4 separate regions of the Homo sapiens genome follow, and all the other regions are reported to be linked to region 2. The links are microRNA targets in miRTarBase. Many come from high-throughput screens and were not tested one by one. Region 2 holds a microRNA gene; each other region holds the end of a gene's coding sequence. Distances are from middle to middle.
The links. Region 2 holds the annotated microRNA hsa-miR-4500 (UGAGGUAGUAGUUUCUU, at 1,898-1,914, shown strand). A microRNA usually pairs through its seed, bases 2 to 8, with sites in the 3' UTR of a target mRNA and lowers its output. Matches are read on the target gene's strand: a 7mer-m8 pairs with bases 2 to 8, a 7mer-A1 pairs with bases 2 to 7 and ends in A, and an 8mer does both.

Region 1: the mRNA of GOLGA4 is a reported target of hsa-miR-4500. Seed matches in the 3' UTR shown: 7mer-A1 at 6,716-6,722.
Region 3: the mRNA of AKAP8 is a reported target of hsa-miR-4500. Seed matches in the 3' UTR shown: 7mer-A1 at 5,518-5,524.
Region 4: the mRNA of NHLRC3 is a reported target of hsa-miR-4500. Seed matches in the 3' UTR shown: 8mer at 1,881-1,888.

Annotation. Positions count from the first base shown.
Region 1 is chr3:37,359,874-37,366,999 of GRCh38, forward strand. GOLGA4 (golgin A4) reads left to right here. Exons shown (of 24, transcript NM_002078.5): 23 at 1,370-1,432; 24 at 6,207-7,006. The coding sequence ends at 1,399. Among named protein-coding and RNA genes, the nearest start is that of APRG1, 18 kb to the right of the region's middle.
Region 2 is chr13:87,613,459-87,620,584 of GRCh38, reverse strand. It overlaps MIR4500 (microRNA 4500), which reads left to right and starts at 1,845; the gene lies at 1,845-1,920. It overlaps LOC124900338 (formin-like protein 5), which reads left to right. Exons shown (of 2, transcript XM_047430855.1): 2 at 4,830-6,318. The region is part of intron 1 of MIR4500HG (MIR4500 host gene); the gene reads left to right.
Region 3 is chr19:15,348,716-15,355,841 of GRCh38, forward strand. It overlaps AKAP8 (A-kinase anchoring protein 8), which reads right to left. Exons shown (of 14, transcript NM_005858.4): 14 at 4,670-6,655. The coding sequence ends at 6,200. The region is part of intron 3 of LOC124904643 (a long non-coding RNA gene); the gene reads left to right. Among named protein-coding and RNA genes, the nearest start is that of BRD4, 20 kb to the left of the region's middle.
Region 4 is chr13:39,047,019-39,054,144 of GRCh38, forward strand. It overlaps NHLRC3 (NHL repeat containing 3), which reads left to right. Exons shown (of 7, transcript NM_001012754.4): 6 at 22-134; 7 at 656-3,091. The coding sequence ends at 908. It overlaps LOC105370169 (a long non-coding RNA gene), which reads left to right and starts at 6,054. Exons shown (of 5, transcript NR_187783.1): 1 at 6,054-6,310.

The DNA of each region.
Region 1 (7,126 bases), not on the chromosome of region 2:
GACACATTATAGAAAATATTGCACATGTCAAATACATATTTGTTTTCTTGAGATTGGTTTTGATTCTGGTGTTGGTAGAATAAGGTAATACGTGATCACTGGAAAAAATATTATAAGCCAGAAACATAGAAAGGGAGTCCCTCATGATCTTCAGCCTCCAGACTACTTCTGCTATGCCAGTATCATCTCTGTGAACAGTTTGGGGAATATCTCCATGTTTTCTAAGCCATGTAATTACATATTTATAGTTACTCCTTTATCATTCATTTTATTTTATAAAAATGAGAGTATGCAATGGCTTGCTTTTTTCACTTAATATATTTTTATATTATTCCACCTTATTACAAATTGGTCTCATTCTTTTCAATGGCTGATTGTATGATTATATGGATGTCCTACAGTTTAGTTCACCAGTTTCCTCCTCATTCCATTTACTTATGTTTTCAAGATTTTCAGTACTTTACAAGCATAGACATAGGGAACATCCATATACATGGATTTTGTATACTTCTGCCAGAGAGGATATTAACCTCATTGTGTTGTGTGTGTTGCACATATTATTTTCTAGCTTGTCTTTTGGTTTTGCTGCTTTTTACTAACTTTAAATATGAAAGATAAATAAAATGATGTTTCTGAGGTTGGCCACACTATCCAAGAATAGACTCAGATTTTATAAGCAATCTTTGTTTTTAATGCTGCCATTTTAAATCACCGTGAAGGTAATTAATGATTTTGGACAATGACCATCTTAAAATGGGGCATAGAATTTATTTAAGGTTTGTCACAGTAAAAACTATATTTGAGATTGAGTTTCCTTAAATTGAAATTTCAGTTTGGGTCACCATTCCTGAAACCATTTCTGATACATTGTTGAATTACAAGAGAGTTATTCAGTGATCAAATTGACACATTAGGAATGAGAATTCAACATATAGACACATGGCTCTTCAAATTCATCATCATTTTCCCGAAAACTTTTTAGGGTAAATTGAGATTATGTAAATCAAATTTTAATGTGTACTTTCATGGAATTATGAAAGAGATCCTTTTGTAAAGCAAATAATTGCCCCGTAATTCAGCTGGTAAATATGTACTTAAAATATGCAGTACACCTTTCATTACGTTGTTTAAGTCTTCAAATGAAAGTTGCAAGTAAAATCTCAGCTACATAATATTATATTTACCTAGGATATGGGGGGAGGTATTACAGATTCCTTATTCCTTGCCTGTACACCCTTGATTTGGGGAGATTTGAGAAAAATTTAAGTACAGTCTGTAATCCTATGAACTTCATATACACATACAATCTATGTGTTATATTAAGTCTTAAAACTAACCCAATAAGCTTTTTTTCTTCCTGGCTTTGTAGTTTACTTCACCTCGCAGTGGTATCTTCTGAGTAAACCATCAGTCTGTGCTTAGTTAACATGTGGTGAGTGAAGAACAATGTCTTGTGTCTTTTGTGCAAAAATCAAATGTGTTGCCTGATACTAACCATTTTGCTGGAATTCTTTTGCTCTTGTTTAATAAATATATGATTATGCTATGGGTTAATATAAGTATTTTCTGTTCATTCTGTTATATGGATCGATAATAGTTAAAAATTACTACCACCAGTAAGAGTTATATAATTTTAGGAAATTTCATTTCTTTAAAGAGTAATTGAAAGTTTGAAAATTGCTCTTTGAAATTTTGTTAAAGAATCCAAAAAAGTATTTATGTAACTTATTTTCCCTTTTGTTTTTAATTTTCCAAGAATGATCTTTGAAATTATGATTGTGAGAGAGAAATGAAAAATCATTTTCTAGATAAAAATGAAGTGGTATATTCCGTGAGAATTCAAAATCCTGTAAAGCCTGAGTCAAGGCCAGTCAGAAATAATGAAAACTAGTAAGATCAATTTTAAAATATAGCTTCATTACTTCCTGAAATCAGACAGTTTAACACAAGACAACACATTTGTCCTGAGGAGACCGTTAGGCAGCCTACTTTAATTGAATGTGATTCTTCCTGATTAACATATTACAGTGAAATGCAGGCATATGAAATGTTTCAACGCAGTTGACTGTCTTCATCATTTAAACCCTCTCCCCTCATCTCTATGTATTTTTCATGCTATTAGGTTGATTTAGCACCCTCTGAAAATGTACCATACATCTTTACCTCAGCCTTTGCTAGAATTTTCACAAAATCAAAAACAGATCACAATTAGTAGGGCTTCACTATAATTAAAATAAATACTCTCAGTGATTGTTAATATCCAGCTAATAATAGTATCAAGGTTTAAAATGGCAAGATACAACATTTCTCCGTTCTTTTAAGCTTTTATTTATTTATTTATTTATTTATTTATTTATTTATTTATTATTTTTTTTTTTTTTGAGACGGAGTCTCGCTCTGTCGCCCAGGCTGGAGTGCAGTGGCGGGATCTCGGCTCACTGCAAGCTCCGCCTCCCGGGTTCACGCCATTCTCCTGCCTCAGCCTCCCAAGTAGCTGGGACTACAGGCGCCCGCCACTACGCCCGGCTAATTTTTTGTATTTTTTTTTAGTAGAGACGGGGTTTCACCGTTTTAGCCAGGATGGTCTCGATCTCCTGACCTCGTGATCCGCCCGCCTCGGCCTCCCAAAGTGCTGGGATTACAGGCGTGAGCCGCGCCCGGCCTTATTTATTTTTTTTTAAAAAATAAGTAAAGCCTTTATCACCCTGGCTGGAGGGCAGTAGTGTGATCATAGTTCATTCCTGTGTCAGCTCCTGGGCTCAAGGGATCCTCCCACCTCAGCCTCCCAAATAACTGGGACTCTAAGGCACCTATTTTTTTATTTTATTTTATTTTGTAGTGATGGTCTTGCATAGGCTGGTCTCGAACTCCTGGGCTCAAGCGATCTTCCTACCTCAGCCTCTAAGCTTTTTTTTTTTTTTTTTTTTGAGACGGAGTCTCGCTCTGTCACCCAGGCTAGAGTGCAGTGGCGTGTTTTTGGCTCACTGCAAGCCCCGCCTCCTGGGTTCACACCATTCTCCTCCCTCAGCCTCCTGAGTAGCTGGGACTACAGGTACCCGCCACCATGCCCAGCTAATTTTTTGTATTTTTAGTAGAGACAGGGTTTCACCGTGTTATTCAGGATAGTCTCGATCTCCTGACCTCATGATCTGCCCACCTTGGCCTCCCAAAGTGCTGGGATTACAGGCGTGAGCCACTGTGCCTGGCCCTCTAAGCTTTTATCTTTAAAAATCTTCTGTGCCTTCATTTGAGCCTCCTTTTGATTTTAATATATATTATTTGATTTGCCTTAGCGATTATCCAGAACTGTCTTATTTTTGTCATCCACATTACAATGGCTGGCAGTACAATGCATGGTTTTATTAGGTTACTTTGATAATAAATGTGAACATTGAAAAACTGTAAATTCTATAGCTAACCCATTAAGTCTTAATGTTTTCCTTTTAAAATAATACTGCATTGTACTTGTTATTATTGCAGCTGAATATCAATTATCACTGGAAATGTATATTGTGCAGCATTTCTATTAATTGATTAATTGATTGTCTCCTCAACTTTTAGTTTGAAACATTTCAGACATAAGATTTGCAAAAATAGTACAATGAACACCCATATACCCTTCACCTAGTAATGTTTGGCCAGATTTTCTGACTTGCTGTCACTCTTGTTCTCTCTCCATTTATATTATTCCCCATTTGTAACATTTGGCAATTACTTGCCGACATGCTTGCAAGCATTTGACAATTGTAAACATAAACTAAGTACTTTAGCATGTATCTTTAAGAACAAGGACATTTTTCTACATACAGTACAGTTATTACACTCAGGAAGTTTAATATTAGCTAATACTAATATATAGTACATAATACTCAGTTTTTTACAGTTTTCCAAATAATGTCTCCCATAATTTTTTAGAATCCAGGATCCACTTGAGATTTCACATTGCATTTAGTGGTCATATTTTCCTAGTCTTTTTTAAACTAGAAAACGTCTAGCTTTTTTGTTTTTAATGATGCAGCATTGTTGAACTGATCTTGAATTTTGTTTCCCACAACAGATCAAGCTACGGTTTCAAAATAAAAACTGACAAGGAATTTACGTATAACAGAAGATCTTGTTGGTGTCTTCTTTAGGTTCCTAGGACCAACATGATTATTGAACTAGTTTTATAAATAATATACTATTAGTAGTACATTATGAGTAGTGAAATATTTGTTCATTTACAAATTCAGAAGACTAAAACTCCCCCTATCCACTTAATATATATGGAAAGTTTGCCTCTATTAATCTTACTTGGTAATTTATTTTTATGGGATTTTAAACTCATATCTTGATGTGACTACTGGTTTTAGCATTTTCTTTTCCTTTTCTTTTTTTTATATTTGAGACGGAGTTTCACTCTTGTTGCCCAGGCTAGAGTGCAGTGGCGCAATCTCGGCTCACTGCAACCTCCACCTCCCAGGCTCAAGTGATTCTCCTGCCTCAGCCTCCTGAGTAGCTGGGGTTACAGGTGCCCGCCACCACACCCAGCTTATTTTTTGTATTTTTAGTAGAGACCGGGTTTCACCATGTTGGCCAGGCTGGTCTCGAACTCCTGACCTCAGGTGATCCACCTGCCTTGGCCTCCCATAGTGCTGGGATTACAGGCGTGAGCCACTGCTCCTGGCCAGCATTTTCATTTGAGAAACATTATGAGGAAGACTTTGGCTATGTCATAGCTTTTTTTTTTTTTTTTGCCCCCCAGCATGGTCACACCAGCCTAGAGTGCAGTGGCGTGAACACAGTTCACTGCAGCCTTGACCTCCTGGGCTCAAGGAATCCTCCCGCCTCAGCCTTCTGAGTAGCTGGGACCACAGACACATGCCACCACACCTAGCTATTTTTTTTAAAAAAAAGTTTGTAGATACAGGGTCTTGCCATGTTGCCCAGGCTGGTCTTGAACTCCTGGGCTCAAGCAGTCCTCTGACCCTGGTCTCCCAAAAGTGCTGGGATTATAGGCATAAGCCACCATGCCCAGCCAGCATTTCTAATTAATTTATTTTTTGAGACAAGGTGTCACTGTCGCCAAGCCTGGAGTGCAGTGGTACAGTCAGCTCACTGCAGCCTTGACTTCCCAGGCTCAAGCGATCCTCCTGCCTCAACCTCCTGAGTAGCTGGGACTACAGACACACACCATCATGCCTGTCTAATTTTTTCTATTTTTTGTAGCAATGGGATCTCACTATGTTGCCCAGGCTGTTTTTAATTTTTAAATTAAATTTCTTAATTCCAGATGAGACATAAATTTCCACACCAAAATGCTGTTTGTCTTTTGCTATTATGTCATGCTGGGAGAATTGCAATTTGTAGAATAATCAGCACACTGGATAAGAGGAAAGAGCTCTTTCTCATCTTTATTTTTTATTGTTTTTTTGAGGCAGTCTCTCACTCTGTTGCCCAGGCTGGAGAGCGATGGCATGATCTCGGCTTACTGCAACCTCCGCCTCCTGAGTTCAAGTGATTTCTCCTGCCTCAGCCTCCCGAGTAGCTGGGGTTACAAGCACCACCACGGCCGGCTAATTTTTTTGTATTTTTAGTAGAGACAGGGTTTTGCCATGTTGGCCAGGCTGGTCTCAAACTCCTGGCCTCAAGTGATCTTTCCACCTTGGCCTTCCAAAGTGCTAGGATTATAGGCATGAGCCACTGGGTCCAGCCTGTCATCTTTAATTCCAGTCCAATATTTGTGAGATTCAGCCAAGTCAGCGTGTTTACTCCTGGGTTACTGTATAAACTGGTAGCATTCGATATATGGTAAATGGTTGCAGTTCCAAATTTCACTTAGAAATGCCATTTTCCAGGATTGCTGACTATAGGTTGGTTTGCATCATTGCAAGAATGTTAATTTTTAGAAGATACCTTTAAGATTTAGTGTTTAGACAATTTCTACTTTTTTTTTTTTTTTTCAGAATGGGGTCTTGCTGTGTTGACCAGGCTGGTCTCGAACTCCTGGCCTCAAGTGATTCTCCCATCTTGGCCTCTCAAAGTGCTGGGATTACAGTCATGAGCTACCACACCCAGCCTTATTTCTGCCTCTTTACTGCAGTCTCTAGACCATGGAATAGAATTTTATTTCAAACTTGAAAAAACAAATATCCCAAAAAGTCAACCTAAATGTTTTGGATTTTTTTGCCCCCTTTCTTTATTCTCTTTTCCTTTTTCTTTTCCAGTCATGGCTCCGATCTTCATCTTGAAGAAGAGTGACATTGGGTGACTGCTGCTTGGAAAACTGTCCACACTTGCTACTCTTTGAGAATGAAGTTGTCATTCAGGGCCCCTCATGTAGCCAAAAGACCAAGAAAAATCTGGCCCACAGATAAGTTGCAGACTGCCTTTAAAATAGATTTTATCAGTGGAGAAATGGTGATAGTTTTTTCTTCAGTTTTCTCTTGGGAAGAGTTTTATGTTGTTTAAAAGATATTTTGATAACTTAACCTGCTTTATGGGCTTACATAATATTCCTTTCATCCATTCTTTTTAAAGAACGGCTTACCTTTCCTATTTATTTTTAGGGTGATTTTTTAAAAAGACTTGTGCAATACATTTTGAGGTGAAACTTAGTGGATTTTTTCTGATAAATTAGAGCATTTAATTGACTATTTTATTCAGGTTGATCTGTTGAATATTTGCTAAAGACCAGTTCTTTAAGCTAAGACATGTAAAAAATCCCAAATGGCAGTACCTCATTGTTTACTTAGCTTTTGTACTTATATTTTTCAGAGGAAAAAACACTACTGTAAATTGTGAATAGCCAATACATAACTGTATTGTATGCAAATCTGTGATTGTTGGCAGTGTCATCTCTGAGAAACAGATAAATAAAGTTTATTTACTATATAACATTTGTTTATTGTACTTGTTCCTCAGTTGAAATCTATTTTAAAATGTTTAAGAATGCATATTCTATTTGGATGAATTTAGTGAGGAATTATTTGTCAATATAACTAAATGCTGAGCATTTGAAAAGAATTTTCACGTTCAAATTTGGTATGACCAAGTTAGAAGGAGCATGGAAATAAATACTCCATGATGTCTGCTTTAGGATTCTGACAACTTGGGAATGCCTCCTCTCTCTGGAATAGACCATACT
Region 2 (7,126 bases):
AGTAGGAAATTATCCTAAGGAAACAATCACTTACACACACACACACACACACTCACATACACACGCACACTCACATGCACACATCTATACCATAAAATTTTATTATGAAATTATTGTAAGTTTATAAAAATATTTACCAATAGAATAATATTAAGTAACTCATGGATTTTTTATTAAAACTAATTTTGGTATTTTTTAAAGGACTAAAGATATTTTGGTACAGATTTCAGGGAAAATAGGATGCTAGCCCTTGAGAACATGCCGATCTTGCTCCTTGGCTAACTACACCATTCACCTTACTTTGGCTAGGGAGGCATTTGCAGAGCTCTCCTTCTGACATTTTTGTCTAGAGGAGGCGTTGTTGTCTCCCTTACTCTCAGAAGCTTCACGTGTGTTAAGGAAACTTTTTAAGTGTCTTTCCTTTTTGAAATGAGCAAGTGGTAGGTATATAGATACTTTATTATTTTTATCTTATTTATTCAAATATTTTATTTTCCTTCTATTCTATCTTTTTTACGATAGGCATGGACATTCTATTACACATTTGGAAAAATACAGAGTGTAATACACTCTATACCCAAGTCTATATGCAAAAGCTGTTTCTATTTTTCTATATTTGCATCACTAGGTATATGTTCTTTTTAAAGTAAATTATAGATACATTGGTACTTCATTCTAAATACTTCAAGCATATATCTCCAAAAATTAATATTCTCAAATTTTGCTGCAGTGCTATTATTACAGCTAAAATAATTGAGACAAATCACATAATATTACAAAATACCCACAAATTCTATATTTGAGCATATTCAGATATTCTAAAAGTGTATTTATAGCTGATTTGCTCACACCTGGAGTCAATCAAGAATCACACATTGTATTTGGTTGTGTTGGTTCTTAAATCTCTATTAATCTACAATAGACCCAACTATATTTTTCTTTACTTTTATGACATAGAAAGTCTATTGCCAGTGGTTGTCCATTTTCAGATTTGTAATATAGAATTGGTTTGTTTTCATTCTCTGAAGCATATTATATCATTACATTACACAACAACTTCCTGACTTTATTCAATAAGTACATACTGAATTATGAGTGTATGTCAGCCAGAGAACGTATAGCTATGACAGAAAAAAAAAAGAAAGATCTGTCTTTCTTTTTGCTCTAAATATTTTTTTCTCTTTCCTTTAGGATGCAACTGACTCACTTAAAATAGCTGTGTGGATATAGAACTTTTATCAACTACTATTTACTAAATTATATTGGTGTGTTTGTCCTCATCTTAGAATAGCATATCAATAGATGCTATAAAAACATAAGAGGTACGTTTGTAAAACATTGAATTCGGTTCCAAATATCTCAAAATTCTTCCCTAAAGAACACTTTTTGATCGAGATTAAGACATAGGAATCTAAGTTCATCAACCAAAGATGGGTGCCTGACTGCTCATCAACTAATTTTATATGACTCAAAGAATAGGAATTCAGAAGATCTGTGTCCAGCTTTGTCATGGGTAAATAAGGAAGGCACCCATAAATCTTATATAAGTCGTAGGAAGAAGTGTGGTTCTTTGCAGTGAACCATTTCCTGGAAGACACAAGACTGGGGGGATTTTTTAACCTTTGCTGTTTTCCAGGAGTACAGGTTTCTGGTAAAATTCAACATTGTCAGGAGCAGCCAGAGTGATAAGATAACTTATACACAAGACAATCCCTAATAACTTATACACAAGATGATCCCTAATGCAAATGGCGCCTGTGTCTGGAAGAAGCAGTGACACCTTCATAAAACTAAACTTTTGCCTTAATAATATGGTGCTTTCCAGTAGAGGCAATAGCAGAGCCCAGGAGAGAAAGTACTGCCCAGAAGCTAAAGTGTAGATCAAACGCATAATGGCTGAGGTAGTAGTTTCTTGAACTTATTTGTGAGCACATGCAAAAAGTCTCCTGAGTTAAAAACCACAACCACAACAACAACAATGACAACAACAACAACAACAGGGAGGACATTTGCAAAAGTACAGAGTCTCTGCAAGCTTCTGAAAACAAGAGCCAGTAAAAAATGTGATGTAGTAATGTTATTACCACACATGTGAATTCGTTTTTACGTAGTTTTGATGACTTGTGGAAGTTTAGGTTACAGTCACATAGAAAAGTATTTACCCCTTACCTGAAGCACCCTGAGTTTGAGATCAAGAAAAAAAAGATACTAAATGTTTCATCTTGGCATGGCTTGAGGCATAATAGTAAGATAGATATAATAGTATCCATTAATGGCAGAATTCCATCATTTTATAGATATGACTGTCTATGTTATGGTATGTTTTGTAATAAACATGTTTTGTTTTAGAAAAGGAAAATGTCAGAAATATTTGAGATGTCTGAAAGAGTGAAGTTTTCCTAGTGCTGTGAGGAGATTACTAAGAAAAAATGGCATGTACTAATTTTATTTGATTAAAATAAGAACTCAATAATAGACGACAAGCTTCAGGCTAGTTTTAGGAACAATAGTTCTTTCTTTGTCTTTGTTTTGTTTAGTTTTGAAGACAGGGTCTCACTCTGTTGCCCAGGCTACAGTGCAGTGGCACAATCGTGGCTCACTGCAGCCCAGCCTTGGCCTCCTAAGCTCAAGTGATCCTCCCAACACAGCCTCCCATGTTGCTGGGACTACAGGCACACATCACTACTCCTGACTGATTTTTTTTCTTTTTTTAATGTTTGTAAAGACAGGGTTTCACCATTTTGCCCAGGCTGATCTAAAACTCCTGAGCTCAAGTGATCCTTCTGCCTCAGCCTCCTAAAATGGTGGGATTATGAATAAGAGTCACCATGCCCAGATGAGACTTAACTTTCTAAGTAAATTAGACATAATTAACAATCAGTAATATAAACATTTTAAGCCTCCATTTGTAACCAGGTCCTTTCAGCATTTTGACAGAAGTTCTGTATCTTCCACTTCAATACTTAAATTTACTTTTCCTCAGGCACCTGCATTCAACATTAATTTTAAAAAGATCCTGTCAAGTACTACTCTTGAGCTTTTGTTTAATTATTCTTATTACAATACCTCCAGAAACTACCATGAAGGAATTTACATAATTGATATTCATACATTGAAAATAAAATAGAGACTTTGCTGAAGTAATTTCTACTGTCTACTGAAAATAGAGTTTTCAGCTATATTACAAGATAAATTAAATTGTGTTGTAAAGGTCTGGGTGCAAAACTATAATTTTACCATTTTTTTTCTGGAAAATATGGGTTCGAGTTTCTAATTCATAAACTTAAATTGTTCTGTGGTGAAATTAAAAAGTTTCTTGAAAAGTACTTGTATGAAAACTAGTTTTTCTCCGTGTCTACTATGTAGTGTTTCTCAAACTTGCTACTATGGATGCGAGAAGGTTTTTGAAAGTATTGCTTTTTTACGTTCCACAAGTTCTCTACTAAAATTTTTATTTTAGTTTTATCTTTCTATTTTGATAATAATTTCACAATAACCTTATATAAGCATATTCTTTATCAGATACAATACAGATCGGTTATTTCAGTGCCATGGCTGCCTTTGGGTTTATGATATTTTTGGCTCCGAGTTGTATGATGAGAAGTTAATGAACAAATGAGATAGAGAAGCTACATATGTAATACATTTGTCCCAAGTGAAGCCCAAATTACACGCCGATGACACTATAGAAACAAAAGTTTGGTAGCATTTTAATGTGAGTAAAATGAGAAATCAAGTAATTTCATGGCTTAGGGTTGACTAGGCCTGTGAAACTCAACAGAAAACTTTATCACAACAATCATATCATATTTTAATTGAGGTTGGAAATTTACTGTTAACAACACATGTTCTATTATCTCAAATTTATGTTGTTAATTTTAATTTTATGGGTTTATAATTTGCTTGTGCTTAGCTTATAAATTCTCTTTGGCTTTATAGTTATAAATTCAAAGAATCAATTAGAGTTCATCCCAAGATTTATGTTTTTAAGTATTTAATTAATATCATAATGTAATTTAAGTTGATACTTGGATCAGCTGGAATTCTTTTTCATGTCAAAAATGTCCATAAGTTCATCAAGTTGGAGATATATGTTCATTGAATCATATATCTTTTTTTCCCTTTTACAAGTGCAAGATAAAGGAAGAAAAGAAAAATATCTATTAAATTAGAATAATTATTTCCAAGTATGTAGTTCAAACTACTTGTTTAACATTATGTCATTCTTTCAATCAGCACATTTTTAGGAGCTCCTGTTATCCTAATATTATTTACCTCTCAATAAATTTATTAGAACTTGAGAACAGAAAACAACAACAACAACAAAAAACACATACACTGAAGAAAAAAAGAAAATATTATTTTAAGGCCAAATATGCTAGTGCATCAAATAAGTAAGTAATTTCTTCTCAAACAGGAATTATATACTACTCTTGGAAATTTTTTCAATGAAGACATCACCACAGAGAAATGAATTTATGAGTTTCAATTATTTCATTTGTTACCATGACAACACTATAGACAGTTTCCCTTTTCTGTTTTTTTTTTAATTTTTTAACATAATATTTATTCAACCTGCAATGTTTATTAAATCAAGTATTTTGCCATGTGATGGAGGTATCAAATGGAACATGCCATCACTATTCTAAAGGATTTTGCTCTTTGGGGACCGGGGAGAATCTTATATTAAGTATCAGGGCTTGAATTGATTATATCAAATTCTCCTAAAATTGGTTAAATTGTTAAATCTCTGCTCATTATTTTCAATTATTTAATAATTTGTGGTGTTTCAGAATTTTTTATATGTATTTATTTTTACTTCGTTTTAGGGTGTGGTTAAGAGAAAAAAAAATTGCCATTAAGGAATCAGCAAATAGGATGTCTGAAGTGAGGATATAGCACCTATCTCTGAGATTAAAGTCATCTGATCAAAAATGATGCCTCTGAGACTATAACAAAGGAATGAATAATGAAATATAAGAATGGGGATTCTGCACTAACTCTATGGGGAAGAAAACAATGGTAAGAGCAAAAGGATCAACAGCAGCAACTCCTGTTTCCATCGATTTGTTTATAAGATGCCGTCTACATTATTCCAAAATATCCCAGCCTTTTTCTCCCCTGTCAAGCTTCCCTGTCTCTAAAAGAGATCTTGCTCTTCCTGCACAGAAAGAAATAATAATATATCACTGAAATATTATTATTACATTTAAAGTTACTTACACTCTTTCCCATTCCTATAATTTCCTAGTTGGAAGCCCTCGCACTTGGGAAATTATTTAATGTGATTTTTTCTCCCTGACATATAAATTGTCACATCACCTTAAATGTTGGGACTTCAGGTTGGGAAGTGGGTGGATAATATTCTTGAGGAAGCTGCCTTCCTTTTATAGATAATGTTACCTCCTTGTAAAGGTTGCTTTCTATGTATTATTCTACTTTTTTTCTAAGAATATACCATATAATGAAAACTTTACAGGCTTGACATCCTATTACTAAGATTATAATTGTTGAGGTCTTCAATAGAATTTCAAGTCAAATATGTTGTGCTATATGCCTACTTACATTTCACTCTTTGATTCACCTAGTTAGGATCTCAGAATTGAACTTTAATTGCAGATTTATTACTTCTTTACTCTCTTCATGTATTAATTTAAAATTTACTTTTTCCTACCTTCATCTTGGTTTGAGAAGGTTATTTCCCTTTCATTTGATTTATTTGTTTTAATTTACATGTGCATATTTATTACCTGTATATAAGCAAAATTTATAGAAGAGGATAGTATGAGTTAATAAATAAGTATATTATCAGGATATTTTCTTTATATTTAATATATGTTGTAATTAAAATGCACTGTTTAGCTGAACTGTGCCTCCTGGAAACTGTAGCATTTAAAGACAGCACTATGTGAAATATAAAATTATGTTTTTTTTCTCTGTGTCTATGATTTATTGAAGTAATGTTCTTCAGGAAAATTTTTTTAATTTTCAAATTTATAATTGACATAATAATTGTACATATTTATAGGGTACAATGTGATGTTTCAATGCATGTCGATAATATAACGATCAAATTGGAATAATTACCATATCTATCACTTTAAACATTTGTCATTTTTATGTGACAGGTGACAGCATTTAAAATATTCTGTTCTAGCTATCTTGAAATATACAGCAAATTGTAGTTTGCTGTAATCATCCTTCTGAAATTAATTTTTTCTGAGTTTAGATTTTCAGAACACCAAACTGGTAACCAAATTATTAATCAAATTGACAGAAAATTTTATTCTTGTTAATAAAAATACCAATTTATATTTACATTTGTAACTGCTATGTCTATTGTGAGCTGTAATCCCTTTATAGAGGTAAATATGCAAATAAAATAAGCAAATGGTGAAAAAGCAGCCTTTCAGGCTGACTACTTTCTAAATAGATCTAAACTTCAATCCAAATAAGAAAATGCAATATTGAAATTTTAAGGATGCTAAGTCATTTTGTGGGGGTAAAGGATTAATATTAAATTTCAGGAGTTAGATTAGGACAGTGACTAAAATGAATAAGATTAGGAATTCAAGATTTTTTCTTAAATGTATTGAGCTGTGATGACCCATGTCAATTAAAATTTTCCAGGTTACGTGACAAACACTATAACCTTTACAACATAAATTGTGGAGATTTGTATTTTGAATAAGGTTCAACTAAGTAGAAATGATAACCTCCATAATGTTATTTACTACTCCTGGAAATTTTTTTTGATAAAAAATAAAAATGTTATCGTAATTACAGTAGTGAGTCATATGTAATGCCTCAATGGCAATTTTAGTTTATTGTCCCCCAAAATAACATTACTATTCTACATAGCTAAGTTTATTGGTTTCAGCATGACATAAATAGGCCTACGTTTGAAAAATAATTTAACCTCTCTTATTGAGGTTATCCTTTCTATTTACTTGAACCTTATTCATCTTTCTAGGCATTATCATATAGTGAAAAATACTGAAATATACAGATAAATATTAATTATAAATATCACAGCCACCAATTACTGAGCCATCACCATGTGTCAGACATGTTAAGGATGTATCACACGTCATTTCCAACACTCTTAACAGCACGCAGTGTAAAT
Region 3 (7,126 bases), not on the chromosome of region 2:
GCTACTCTGGGGGTTGAGGCAGGGGAATCGCTTGAACGTGGGAGGTGGAGGTTGCAGTGAGCTGAGATCGCGCCACTGCACTCCGCATTGTTGACAGAGCGAGACTCTGTCTCAAAAAAAAAAAAAAAAAAGGCCTGGTGCGGTGGCTCACACCTGTAATCCAAGCACTTTGGGAGGCCAAGGCGGGTGGACCACGAGGCCAGGAGATCGAGACCATCCTCACTAACACAGTGAAACCCCGTCTCTACTAAAAATACAAAAAATTAGTGGGGTGTGGTGGCAGGCACCTGTAGTCCCAGCTATTCGGGAGACTGAGGAAGGAGAATGGCGTGAACCTGGGAGGCGGAGCTTGCAGTGAGCCGAGATCACGTCACTGCACTCCAGCTTGGGCAACAGAGAGAGACTCCGTCTCAAAAAAAACAAAAAACAAAAAACAGGGACACAGAATAACCAAAACAATCTTGAAAAAGAGGAACAAAGTCGGAGGAGTCACAGTTCCTTATTTATTTTATTTATTCATGTTTTTATTGTTATTGAGATGGAGTCTCACTCTGTCGCCCAGGCTGGAGTGCAGTGGTGCAAGCTCAGCTCAGTACAACCTCCGCCTCCCAGGTTCAAGTGATTGTTCTGCCTCAGCCTCCCAAGTAGCCGGGATTATATGCATGCGCCACCACACCTGGCTAATTTTTATATTTTTAGTAGAGATAGGGTTTCGCCATGTTGGGTGTTGGCCAGGCTGATCTCAAACTCCTGACCTCAGGGGATCCACCTGCCTTGACCTCTCAAAGTGTTGGGATTACAGGCGTGAGCCACTGCACCTGAGCTTGTATTTATTCATCTATTTTATTTATTTATTTATTTGAGATGGAGTCTGGCTCTGTCACCCAGGCTAAAGTGCAGTGGCACGATCTCAGCTCACTGGAACCTCTGCCTCCCAGTTCAAGCAATTCTCTGCCTCAGCCTCCCAAATAACTGGGATTACAGGTGCCTACCACCATGCCCAGCTAATTTTTTTGTATTTTTAGTAGAGACGGGGTGTCACCATCTTGGCCAGGCAGGTCTTGAACTCCTGATCTCATGATCCACCCGCCTTGGCCTCCCAAAGTGCTGGGATTACAGGCGTGAGCCACCATGCCCAGCCTATTTATTTTTCTTGAACACAGTCTCTGTCACTCAGGCTAGAGTGCAGTGGCATGATCTCAGTTCACTGCAACCTCTACCTCCCAGGCTCAGGTGATACTCTCACCTCAGTGTCTCCACTAACTGGAACTTCAGGTGCCCACCACCATGCCCAGCTAATTTTTTGTATTTTTGGTAGAGAAGAGGTTTCACCATGTTGCCCATGCTGGTCCCCAACTCCTGAGCTCAGGTGATCCACCTGCCTCGGCCTCGCAAAGTGCTGGGATTACTGGCATGAGCCACTGTGCCTGGCCGACTTTGAGTTATTTATTATTTTAATTTAATTTTTGAGGCAGAGTGTCGTCACTTTGTTGCCCAGGCTGGGTGGATTACAGGTGGCACGGTATCAGCTCACTGCACCCTCCACCTCCTAGGCTCAAACGATCCTCCCACCTCAGCCTCCCAAGTAGCTGGGATTACAGGTGCATGTCACCATGTCCAGCTAATTTTTTTTGTTGTTGTTGTTGAGACAGAGTTTCACTCTTGTTGCCCAGGCTGGAGTGCAATGGCATGATCTCGGCTCACTGCAACCTCTGCCTCCCTCCTGGGTCCAAGCGATTCTCCTGCTTCAGCCTCTAGAGTAGCTGCGATTACAGGTGCGCACCACATGCCCAGCTAATTTTTTGTATTTTTAGTAGAGACAGGGTTTCACCATGTTGGCCAGGCTGGTCTCGAACTCCTGACCTCAGGTGATCCACCCATCTCGCCCTCCCAAAGTAAATGGGATTACAGGCGTGAGCTACCGCTCCTGGCCTGTCCAGGTGATTTTTATATTTTTAGTAGAGATGAAGTTTCACCATGTTGGCCAGGCTGGTCTCTAACTCCTGGCCTTACCTGATCTGCCTGCCTCAGCCTCCCAAAGTGTTGGGATTATGGGCATGAACCGCTGCCTGACTTTAAATCTTACTTCAAAGCACAGTGACATAAGGATAGATACGTAGAATAGAATAGAGCTGACAGTCCAGAAGTAAACCATGTAGTTATATGGTCAACTAACTTTTGACAAGGGTATCAAGACCATTCATTGGGGGAAAGAACAGTCTCTTCAACAAATACTGTTGAGACAACGCGATAAGCCACATGGAGTGAAGTTGGACCCTTACCTTACACGTATATAAAAATTAACTTGGCCAGAGGCAGTGGCTCACGCCTATAATCCCAGCACTTTGGAAGGCCGAGGCAGGAGGATCACTTGACATCAGGAGTTCGAGACCAACTTGGCCAACATGATGAAACCCTGTCTCTACTAAAAATACAAAAAGTAGCCAGGCGTGGTGGCACAATTTTGTAATCCCAGCTACTCGGGAGGCTAAGGCGTGAGAATCACTTGAACTGAGGAGGCAGAGGCTGCAGTGAGCTGAGACTGCGCCACTGCACTCCAGCCTGGACAAGAGAATGAGATTCCATCTCAAAAAAAAAAAAAAAAAAAAAAAATTGGCCGGGCGCGGTGGCTCACGCTTGTAATCCCAGCACTTTGGGGAGGCCGAGGCAGGCGGATCACGAGGTCAGGAGATCAAGACCATCCTGGCTAACAAGGCGAAACTCCGTCTCTACTAAAAAATACAAAAAAATTAGCTGGGCGTGGTGGCGGGCGCCAGTAGTCCCAGCTACTCGGGAGGCTGAGGCAGGAGAATGGTGTGAACCCGGGAGGCTGAGCTTGCAGTGAGCTGAGATCGCGCCACTGCACTCCAGCCTGGGCGACAGAGCCAGACTCCGTCTCAAAACAAAACAAAACAAAACAAACAAAAATTAAAATGAACTACAGACCTAAATATGAGCTAACATTATTAAATTATTGGAATAAAACATAGAAGTAATTTTTTTTTTTTGAGATGGAGTCTCACTCTTGTTGCCCAGGATGGAGTGCAATGGCATGACCTCGGCTCACTGCAACCTCCGCCTCCTGGGTTCAAGAAATTCTCCTGCCTCAGCCTTCTGAGTAGCTGGGATTACAGGCACCTGCCACCACACCTGGCTAATTTTTTGTATTTTTAGTAGAGACGGGGTTTCACCATGTTGGCTAGGCTGGTCTCTAACTCCTGACATCAGGTGATCCACCCGCCTCAGCCTCCCAAAGTGCTGGGATTACAGGCATGAGCCACAACGCCCGGCTTACAAGACTTTTTTTTCCAGATGGAATCTCGCTCTGTTGGCTCAGGCTGGAGTGCAGTGGCGTGATCTCAGCTCACTTCAACCTCCACCTCCCAGGTTCAAGCGATTCTCCTGCCTCAGCTTCCCGAGTAGCTGGGATTACAGGCATCTGCCACCATGCCTAGCTAATTTTTATATTTTTAGTAGAGACGGGGTTTCACCATGCTGGCCAGGCTGGTCTTGAACTCCTGACCTCAGACCATCCACCTGCCTTGGCCTCCCAAAGTGCTGGGACTACAGGCATGAGCCACCATGCCTGGCTACAAGGCTTTTAAAAATTAGCTGGGCATAGTGGTGCACTCCTGTAGTCCCAGCTAATCAAGAGGCTGAAGTGGGAGGATCACTTGAAACCAGGATTTGGAGGCCGCAGTGAGCTGCTGTGGTGCCACCGCACTCCAGCCTGGGCAACAGTGAGATCCTGCCTGTAAAACCAACAACAACAACAACAGAATTATGTAGTTTCACCAAGAGGTGGAAGGTGGAAGAGCCTCACTGACATTCAGACCAATTTAATGACAGGTCTTGGATTGACATATACATATTTTGAAACGAAATTTTGCTCGTCGCTCAGGCTGGAGTGCAGTGATGCAGTATCAGCTCACTGCAACCTCTGCCTCCAGAGTTCAAGTGATTTTCCTGCCTCAGCCTCCAGAGTAGCTGGGACTACAGGCACCTGCCACCACGCCTGGCTAATTGTGTATTTTTAGTAGAGATGGGGTTTCACCACGTTGGCCAAGATGCTCTCGATCTCCTGACCTTGTGATCTGCCCGCCTTGGCCTCCCAAAGTCCTGGGATTACAGGCATGAGCCACCACACCTGGCCTGATATTTTATTTTTTTGAGACAAATTCTTGCTCTGTTGCCCAGGCTGGAGTGCAGTAGCGCAACCTCGACTCACTGCAGCCTCTGCCTCCCTGGTTCAAGCGATTCTTCTGCCTCAGCTTCCCCAGCAGCTGGGATTACAGGTGTGTGCCACCACACCCAGCTAATTTTTGTATTTTTGGTATAGACAGGGTTTTGCCATGTTGGCCAGGCTGGTCTTGAACTCCCGACCTCTACTGATCCACCTGCGTTGGTCTCCTAAAGTGCCAGGAATACAGGTGTGAGCCACCATGCCTGGCCGGGTCTTGGATTTTTATAAGAAGAAAAAAAAGGTGTGGGGTAGGGGAGAGCCAGGTGCAGTAGCTCATGCCTGTAATCCTGGGAGGCAGAGGTTGCAGTAAGCCAAGATCACGCCACTGCACTCCAGCCTGGGCAACAGAGTAAGACTGTCTCAAAAAAAAAAAAAAAAAGAAAAAAAAAAGAAAATTAAGGAAATAAAGCAGTTCCACTAGTGATGTTTTTCTGCACTACTGTTTAATGCTACCGACATTTTTGCCTTAAGAGAACAAGCTTAAAAGGCATGCTCACCCTGCGATTAAGACGCATCTACACAACACAAACGGATGCTGAGCAGAAATGACCCAGAGGCACCATCGTCTTTTCAAGCAGTTTATTTCCATTTTCAGTTCTAATGTTGACTTTTTCATAAATATTCACCTGGAATCTCCACTAAGGCTCCTCATGAGCAGGGCCCAATTCCTAGAATGTGCTTGGTGAGTTAGCCCCTGGTATACAGTAGAGGCTCGGCAAATATTCTACAGCCTCCTTTCTAATGATTTCCCAGTGGCCAGCGTTTCCCAACATGTGAGATGTACAGTTCAAAAGGCCACAGGGAAACTGACACAGCAGGGCCATTTCAAAAGGGGAGGATCTTCCAATTCTTCTGATTTTAGGAAATTCTGTTGCGTGCTAACCTTGAACACATGCTAGCCTCCCTTTCTCAGATTTGGAAAGATCTAAAGTAATAGTTATTTCTCTAAAATGAAACATATATTTCATTTTATATATATATATATATATTACAGATACCTTCTATCTATGGCAATTTATGTTGGATTATTCCACCTATGGCAATCACATCAAGTTTTCTTTCCTTTTTTTTTAAGAGATGGGGTCTTGCTATGTTGTCCAGGTTGGTCTTGAACTCCTGGGCTTAAGCTATCCTCTCACCACGGCCTCCCGAAGTGCTGGGATTATAGGTATGCATCACCGTGCCTGGCCAAATTCTCTTTGTAAATACATTTGAGTGGTAGTAACTAATTTTAAAGGAAAAAAACCTGAAGTAATCTAGAGGTGGAACACAAATGAGGTAAAATATTAGAGAACTGATTCAGCAAGGACTAAAGATTGGGACGCAATGCCCTCTGCACAGTCTGGTTCTTGAGGTTGCGGTGGGTGTGTTTCCAGTGGCGTAGGTCGGTCAGATACTTCTGGCCTTTGGGAGTGCGTGGATGTGACGCGGTCAGTGCCACATGTGAACCAGGTGCTGCGAAGTCCTGTGAAAGTCACACACCATATGGTGCACTACAAAGGTATAGGTTAAAGGCTGAAGCTTGAAACATACAAAAAAAAATCCTCTATAGAGCAAGATATATTCCTAGTATTCAGCTGTTCCCAACCAAATAAAAAAAAAAATTAAGGAAAAAAATAAAAAAGGAAGCATTCCATCAGTGGCTGTATTGAACAAGTAATGTATCATCAAGATATAATCACCCAACCTTTATTATTCCAAGTGCACTACTGTCAAGAGACATGTTACAGCCGCTAAGGACAATGTACTTCAGCTTTGAAACCTGGGCAAGAAGCCACACGACTGCATGAGACAAGCCGTGAGAGGCACTGCTCAGGAGGAAACGCTGGGTCTCTTCACCAAAATTAGATTACAGCATATTCTGGGAGCACACGCCCTTGTACTGCTTACAAACCAAGGGAGAAAGACCAACGCATCCATCATCCCAACGCCTTCCCTGGAACAGGGAAATGAGCATCATTCTGTGGGAACAGCGTCTTTAGACTCTGCATCAGTTTGTTCCACTTCAGCATCCGCGGCAGCTGGGGCAGGAGCAACTCTGGTTTGGGCACTTTCTGCCTCTGCTGCCATTGTCTCGGCGCCATTTCCAGCCTCTGCAGCCTCACTTCTGGCCTTGGGGACGCCCTTCTCATGTGCCGTTCCACAGGGCACCTGCTCTTCCAGCAGCTGTTCGGCTTGAGGATCACTACCGGCCTCCGCTGTGTCCGTGGGGCCTTCGTCCTCAGCCGGCTCCCCGCTGCTCTCTGGAGCGGGCGCTCCTTCCCCATCTACGGCCCTCACTGCTGCTGTAATCACCTCTGCTAAGACGTCCGCGGCCACCTCCTCAGGTGTCTCTTTCTTATCCTCACCTCCTAAATTGTCATCTCCTTCCATTTCTGGATCAACAGTTTCACTGGTGAAAGGGTCCTCACCCTGGCCAAAGAGGAAACACCGGTCAGCGTGGTGTAAGCAGAGCTCAGGAGGCCCATGATTGCGGGGATGTCAGCTTTTCAGAACCAGCAGTCCACAAGGGAAACACTTCTGTAAATTATGCCACAGGAGTGAATCCTACATGTTCTCAGAGCCTACAGATTCAGAAAACACCTCGGGGAGATATTCTGCAATTTTTTTTTTTTTTGAGATGGAGTCTCGCTGTTGCCCAGGCTGGACTGCAGTGGTGCGATCTCGGCTCACTGCAACCTCCGCCTCCTGTGTTTTTAGTAGAGATGGGGTTTCCACCCACCTCAGCCTCCCAAAGCGCTGCGATTACAGGTGTGAACCACCATGCCCGGCCCATTCTGCAATTTTTTTTTTTTTGAGACGGAGTTTTGCTTTGTTGCCCAGGATGGAGTGCAATGGCGCGATCTCAGCTCACCACAACCTCTGCCTCCTGGTTTCAAGTGA
Region 4 (7,126 bases), 49 Mb from region 2:
ACATTTTTGTGTGTTTCTCAGGTGTGGGTTGCTGACCGAGGAAATAAAAGAATCCAAGTATTTGATAAAGACACTGGGGAGTGGTTAGGAGCATGGAATAATTGTTTCACAGAAGAGGGACCTTCTTCAGTCAGGTAATTGTTTCATTTTATTGCAAAATGCTTGTTTTAGTTAGTGTATGTGTCTCACTTCCTCTGAATAGCTAGCTGAAAGTTTAAAATATTTATTGTTAATTTTGAATTAGGGGAAAATAGAAATATACAGAGAAATTTGATATCCAAGATTTTCAGATGCCAGGTAAAGTGAAAACAAGAAATAACATATGCTAGACCTCTCCTCTAGCCTTTATTTGGTAAATGTTTAAACAGGACAAAAATCAAACCCAGCCTAACATCAATTCTTCATTAATTTCATTTTGTGGACTATGATATTGATACTTTTAACAAATTTAAGCTAATCTTTGGCTTTGCTTACCATCATGGACATCTTATTCCTTCATAAACAGAATTAGATCAAATTAAAATTCTTCTTAAAAGAATCATTCAGCAAGTAGGTGCCTACTGTTGTTTGGCACAGTAGGGGATTAAAATGTTGAAAAAAAATACCCTTATGTTTTTTCACAGACATTTATTATGTTAAATGTCTTTCTCCTTAGGTTTACTCCTGATGGGAAGTACTTGATTGTGGCCCAGCTGAATCTTAGCAGGCTCTCAGTCGTAGCAGCACCCCCAGTGGGAAGCATTGGGGAGTGTTCTGTGATCAGCACAATCCAACTAGCAGATCAAGTTTTGCCACATCTCCTAGAAGTCGACAGAAAGACTGGAGCAGTCTATGTAGCAGAAATTGGAGCAAAACAAGTACAAAAATATGTCCCTTTGAATAGCTATGTTCCTTCATTTGGTTCATAATGTTTCTTTCCTGGGAATATTTCAAGTGGCAGTTCAGATTCTCAATTCACTAAGTGCTTAAAAATGATGTTCAAGCACAAGAATTTATTTTTCTAGTATAAAAGATCTAGTATCAGAAAGATTTGTTTTTGTATCATTAAGAATCTTATATTTTGTTGCCCTCTTGGGACTTAGTTTTATTTGTAAGTGCATAAGGATATTTTAATGAAAGGAAAGTAACTAAAAAATGGGGTTGGGAAGAGGGACTAAGGTGGTAACCTCATTATTTGCCCTGGTAGACTGATTCTCCCTGGGTAAAAAAAATGGGAATAAAAATGAGCTTGCATGATAATTTATTAAATTTCATGTGAAGAACTCCAGACCTCCAGATTGTGCAACTAACATAAAATGAGCTGCTTGAGAGATTGTAAATAAGATGAACTATTGATTAATTTGAGTACCCACAGAGTGCTGTGTCTTGACGACTTAAAAATGAAAAAGCAGGATTGCCTTTTGAGTAGCTTGCAGTCTAGTGGGGAGACAAGCAGGCAAACAGTCACAACACAGCAAAAGCGACCTTGGAGCATAGTGGGACTTTTGGAGTAGGAGTGCTGCATTTGACTGAGGGAATCATGGATACTTCGCAGGAGAAGTGAATTTGAGCTCAGACTTGAAAACTGAGGAGGAGCTTACCAAGGGACAAGGAGGAGAAAACAATAATTTCCAAGTAAAGAAGGTATAAAAAGTTAGAAGTGTACTGTAAACTTTGATAGGCTTTTAGGCCTTTTTTAAAGCCCAACTTGGCTTCTGTCCATTACCTATAAGATATTTAATGTCAGTCAGCCTTTAAATGTAGGAATAAAATGGCTGGCATCTAAGCACTTTAGTAAAAGAGGTTTTTACAAATAACTAAGGATTGTAGAGCTTCCTTCTCTTTTTTTTTCTTTTTCTTTCTTTTGTTTTACATGAACTCAACTTATTCCTAACATTTGTCTACCTCAAAGAAATTTCAAGATTATTTAGATAACATGGATATGTGCCAAATCCTTTGAGCTGTTAAGATGATAATTTCCTGCTTTCCTCCTACATCTTCTCCTCCCACTCCCTCCTTTGGTGTGAATATTGGCTTCCCAATTAAGACCTTTTTTTTTTTTTTTCCAGTTTGTTTTAGCTTATTATAGGTTTTGGAGGAACTTTGCCATTTTGTAATCTTTCAAATCATTCTTCACCCTTCCTCACATCAGCTTCCTGCTTTTCCCAGTGTTTTACTGTAAATTGTGTAGCATATGACAAATCTTGAGCTGACTTTCCTCTTCACCTGTTATGGCTGGAGTATTTTCCAGACCTGAAGGGACTCACACTTGTTTTGATACTTGGATCACATCTCCGTGAGGTTAGGAAGGTAAATCTACCAACAGGAAGCCCTGTACTCTGTATTCCAAGGCCATTGGTAAATGTGTTGGTGCCACTGATCGGACTGTATGACCTTAAACAAGTCACCTTAGTTTTCAGTGAAATGGGAATATCATTGTCTCCTCTTTCATGAATGCTGTGAGAATCAGATGTGCAACAGGTACAGACTTGCCCTTTGAAATCTATACCTCTGGATACATTAGAGGCATTTTATTAACAAAGGCCCTTCTAAATGTGCTATTTATTTGACAATAACTATCAGATTTGCCTTAATTTTGTGTTTATAGCATTTATCAAAACGTATCCTCATAGACTTTATGCAGATTAATATGGTCAATTGATTTGGATAAAAGAAAGTAATTTCAGGGTTTGTTTTTAAGCCAGGACAAGAAGTGCAAATGCCTCTTTGAAGCAATTTAGGCTAAACTGATTTTGAAATTTCAAAATGTTTTATTTTACTTTGTTTTATTAAGCCAGGACAAGAAGTGCAAATGCCTCTTTGAAGCAATTCAGGCTAGGTAAACCGATTTTGCCATTTCAAAACGTTTTATTTTACTTTGTTTTATATCAGAGTCTTATAAAACCTGCTGCAAATATTTCTGAATGTCTTTGTAAAAGTGTTTGTTAGTGTACCTGTGATTATAGTACTTCACTTTTTTCCTTTGGATTAATTGGTTAAATGAATGAGAAATGTGTTATGTTTTTTACTAAAAAGTATAAATTAAAATTTTGGAAAGAAAAGGCAATATTATCTGGCTCCCCAATTAAAGTTTGATTTTATTGTCACAAAAGCAGTCTATAACTTTTTATTCCTTTAAAGAATTTCAGCAATTATGAAATCACAAGTTGATGCTGAAAGAATATCCCACTTTTCACACATATAGCGTGTAAGCTGATGTGCATAAATATGACTAGAAGTTGCTTAGAACATTTAAAGAATGTAGCTTGTTTTGAGGTGGTGGGAGGGTACAACTGACAGTAATAACTAGCTAATTGTCTACATTTCTGCATTAAAAGTGGAACATCTTTATACTTCTACTTTTTAGGTCTATTCTTGGAGTGGGGAGGGGAGAAAGTGTTCTAAATTAGAAAACCAAAGGCTATAGATTTAGCTCTATCTTTCCCTACCTGTACCATCAGATTGGGTCTTTCAAGTGGAATATTTATCGATCAGAGAAAACTTGGATGAAATCTGATGGTGAACAGAGATTTACCACGAATTTTTTTTTTTTTTTTTTTTTTTGAGACAGAGTCTCGCTTGGTCGCCCAGGCTGGAGCGCAGGAGTCTCGCTCGCTCGGTCGACCAGGCTGGAGTGCAGTGGCGCCATCTCGGCTCACTGCAAGCCCCGCCTCCCGGGTTCATGCCATTCTCCTGCCTCAGCCTCCCGAGTAGCTGGGACTACAGGCGCCCGTCACCACACCCGGCTAATTTTTTTTTTTTTGTATTTTTAGCGGAAATGGGGTTTCACCGTGTTAGCCAGGATGGTCTTGATCTCCTGACCTCGTGATACGCCCGCCTCCGCCTCCCAAAGTGCTAGGACTTTGTTCTTAGGTCACTTAACAGATTAAAAGACTGCTTCAAGCAATGTAGTGTAAGGCTACGGCAATAAAGTCCTATTTTGTTTTGCCTTTGCTGTTTTTAAGCACTTTTGCATTTGAAAACAGGACAGATTGGATAGTCAGCATTAAAATGGAAACTCAAATTTTTGCTTTTTAGGCTTACCAAAATAAATGAGAGTTTTTAAAAGTCCTAAATTTATTACTTTAATTTGTTGTATTCTCTGCTATATATTTTCAGCAACAATAAAAAATCAAAATAATCATCTTTATTGATTCAGTAAAAAGTTTTGAGACAACAAACATATAAAAGCACTCAGTCAAGTGTCCTCTGCTCTAATAGTTCCCTACCTGGTTGGGAAAACAAGCTACTTAAACCTTGTCTTTTAGTAGTTTTAGGAGATACCATTTTTGGCACTTGTGTTATGTTACATTCTTGATACACAAGAGGTCAGTAGCGTTCTGCTTATAAGCATTTCTTGAAATCAAACATGGGCTAAACTTCATACTTTGGTTGTTTTTTTTTTTAATTGAAGCTACAGTGTTCACCATACTTTCATTGTTTTTCTTTTTTCTGCCACTTGCTTACATCTTAAGGAAATTGCTTTATGGGTGAAACATTTTCCAAGCATTGTTGGAAATTTTTTACTGGTTAATTGGACTTGTCCACAATTAAAAAAAAAGTTTAAACCTTTTCAGTAATTCAGACTAACAGCCAGAAGTGAATTAACTTATTTTAAATGAAGGTGAAACTATAATCTGAATGTGTGAGTTTAGTACAATAGAGAATGAATTTGTATTAGTGGGGAATCATTCTTTTTTCTCCCTAGTAGTTGTTTTTTGTTGTCGTTGTTGCTGTTGTATAAAAAAAAAAAACAATTTCACCTTGTGGTTGCTACTTTACAAATAAGAAAAATAAGTTTTTTATAAAGACTCTTAGGTCATTTCTTCATCAGCTACTCTGGAATCCATGAGTTTATAAATTAATCCTCTAAACGCTAAATGACATGTAGATGCTCCTTTGGTGTATAAGAATTGAATAGAATTTGAGCAATGAAAAATAACACTACTTAAAACTTATTTTTTCCATTGTAAACAATGAAGTAATATGACTTAATTCTGCTTCTATGTAATTCATAAATAAAAAACTCACTGTAACATTAAAACAAGCATGTCCTACATGAGTTACATTTAAATAAATTAATTTTAATTTAAATTAATTTAATAGATTAATTTGCGTGAGTCACAACAAATTGATATTATAAACTTGCTTCTCAATTTTCAGCCGCTTTATCAAAGGAAGAAAATTTTAGTTGCATGGTGCAGATTCTCAGATTTGTTCCTAGTGAGAATTAGTTACTGTAATATGTGTTAGAAATTTTTTTTTACAATACGACATTTATATACAAATTGTCACAATCACCAGTTAAATGTTTTTATAACATTTTTCTTCACAGTGTGTATAAAGAAGTATTTAAATATTTTGATGCTTCCTGTATTGAACTGAAATACTTATTTTTACTTAACTAAAGGGATGAAGGAACTAACTATATGTACGTTTGTTTTTAATCAACATTAATTGAGGTAAATGTATTCAGTTTTGTGTGGAGCGTATGGGGGTTACGTTTGTGCAGTCTGTGTGCATATGTGTAAATATAAATGTGCATCTAAAGGGCATTATGCCCAACTAGGTCAGAAGAACTGGATCAAGACAGTTGAAACAACATGGCTAAACGTTAAGTCCTCATCGGAGGACACCTGGTTTGGCAACAAATTATTTGAAAAAGTTTTGGAAAGTTTGTTGGCCAAAAATATTACAAGCCTTGTTAAGAAAAATGTTGCAATCTTAGACAACATTGAAGTGTAGATTTAATGGCAGTTTAATCGACAAGATAGTCTATATATCTAGTAAATAGCTCCGTGGTGTTGTTTCCTTTGGCTACTACATTTTAAGGGGGCATCCTATAAACTGTTTAACCCAAAAGCAGTGTGATGGTTAATATTGAGTGTCAGCTTGGTTGGATTGAAGGATGCAAAGTATTGTTCCTGGGTGTGTCTGTGAGAGGGTTGCCGAAGGAGATTAACATTTGAATCAATGGACTGTGAGAGGCAGCCCCACCCTCAATCTGAGTGGGCACCATCTAATCAGCTGCCAGCGTGGCTAGAATAAAAGCAAGCAGAGGAACGTGGAAGGATGAGACTGGCTGAGTCTTCTGGTCTTCATCTTTCTCCCATGCTGGATGCTTCCTGCCCTTGAACATTGGACTGCAAGTTCTTTAGCTTTTGGACGTTTGGACTTACACCAGTGGTTTGCCAGGGGCTCTCAGACCTTCTGCCACAGACTGAAGGCTGCACTTTCAGCTTCCCTACTTTTGAGGTTTTGGAACTCGGACTGGCTTTCTTGCTCCGCAGCTTGCAGGTGGCCTGTTATGGGACTTTACCTTGTGGATCATGTGAGTCAGTACTCCTTAAACTCCCTTTCATATATCCATCTATCCTATTCATCCTGTCTCTGTAGACAACCCTGACTAATACAAGCAGGTAACCAAAATAACAGTGTTTGGAAATAATTCTGAAGTCTCAGAGGGTGATCATGTAGTAGAGTGAATAGAATTCTGCACTTTCCTCCAGAACTAAGACAATGAGTACAAATAATAGAGTGGTCCATTGGATCAGCCCAATAAAAGAACCCTCCTCTAGCAGTGGAATGGGCTGTAGCAGTGGATGTGGTAAAGCTTGGTGTTTCACAGCTTGGAATCCAGAGTTAGGTTGACCTACGTTCTAATCCACGCCCTGCAACTAATTTGTATTGTTTTGAGCTATGCCTCATTTTTTTGCTCATTTGTGAAATGGGAATACTAGTATTTTCCTTATGGAATTATTGTGAATACAAATAAGATCATGCATGTAAAGCATTAAGCCCTGTCTCTGACATGCAATAAGCACTCAACAAACCTTAAGAGATTCACGTGTGGTGTTTCAATCAGACAATGGCAGTCATGCTACCACCTTTGGGCAGGGTTTGGGAGAATGGTGAGACCACATGAACTTCCCTATTATATAATTCTGTGTTTAGTCACAGTATTGAAAATTAAAGGTAAGGCTGTAATATACTAAAGCATCTATCATTTAGAAATGCCATTTTAAAAAACATGGCTATTTTTAGTTGGCATTAATGCTGTTTATCCAACAAGTAATTTATGATCAAGGTAAAGACTCCCACCTTCTGCAATTTATATTCTAGTTGGAGAGACAGAGGAAATTGAGAG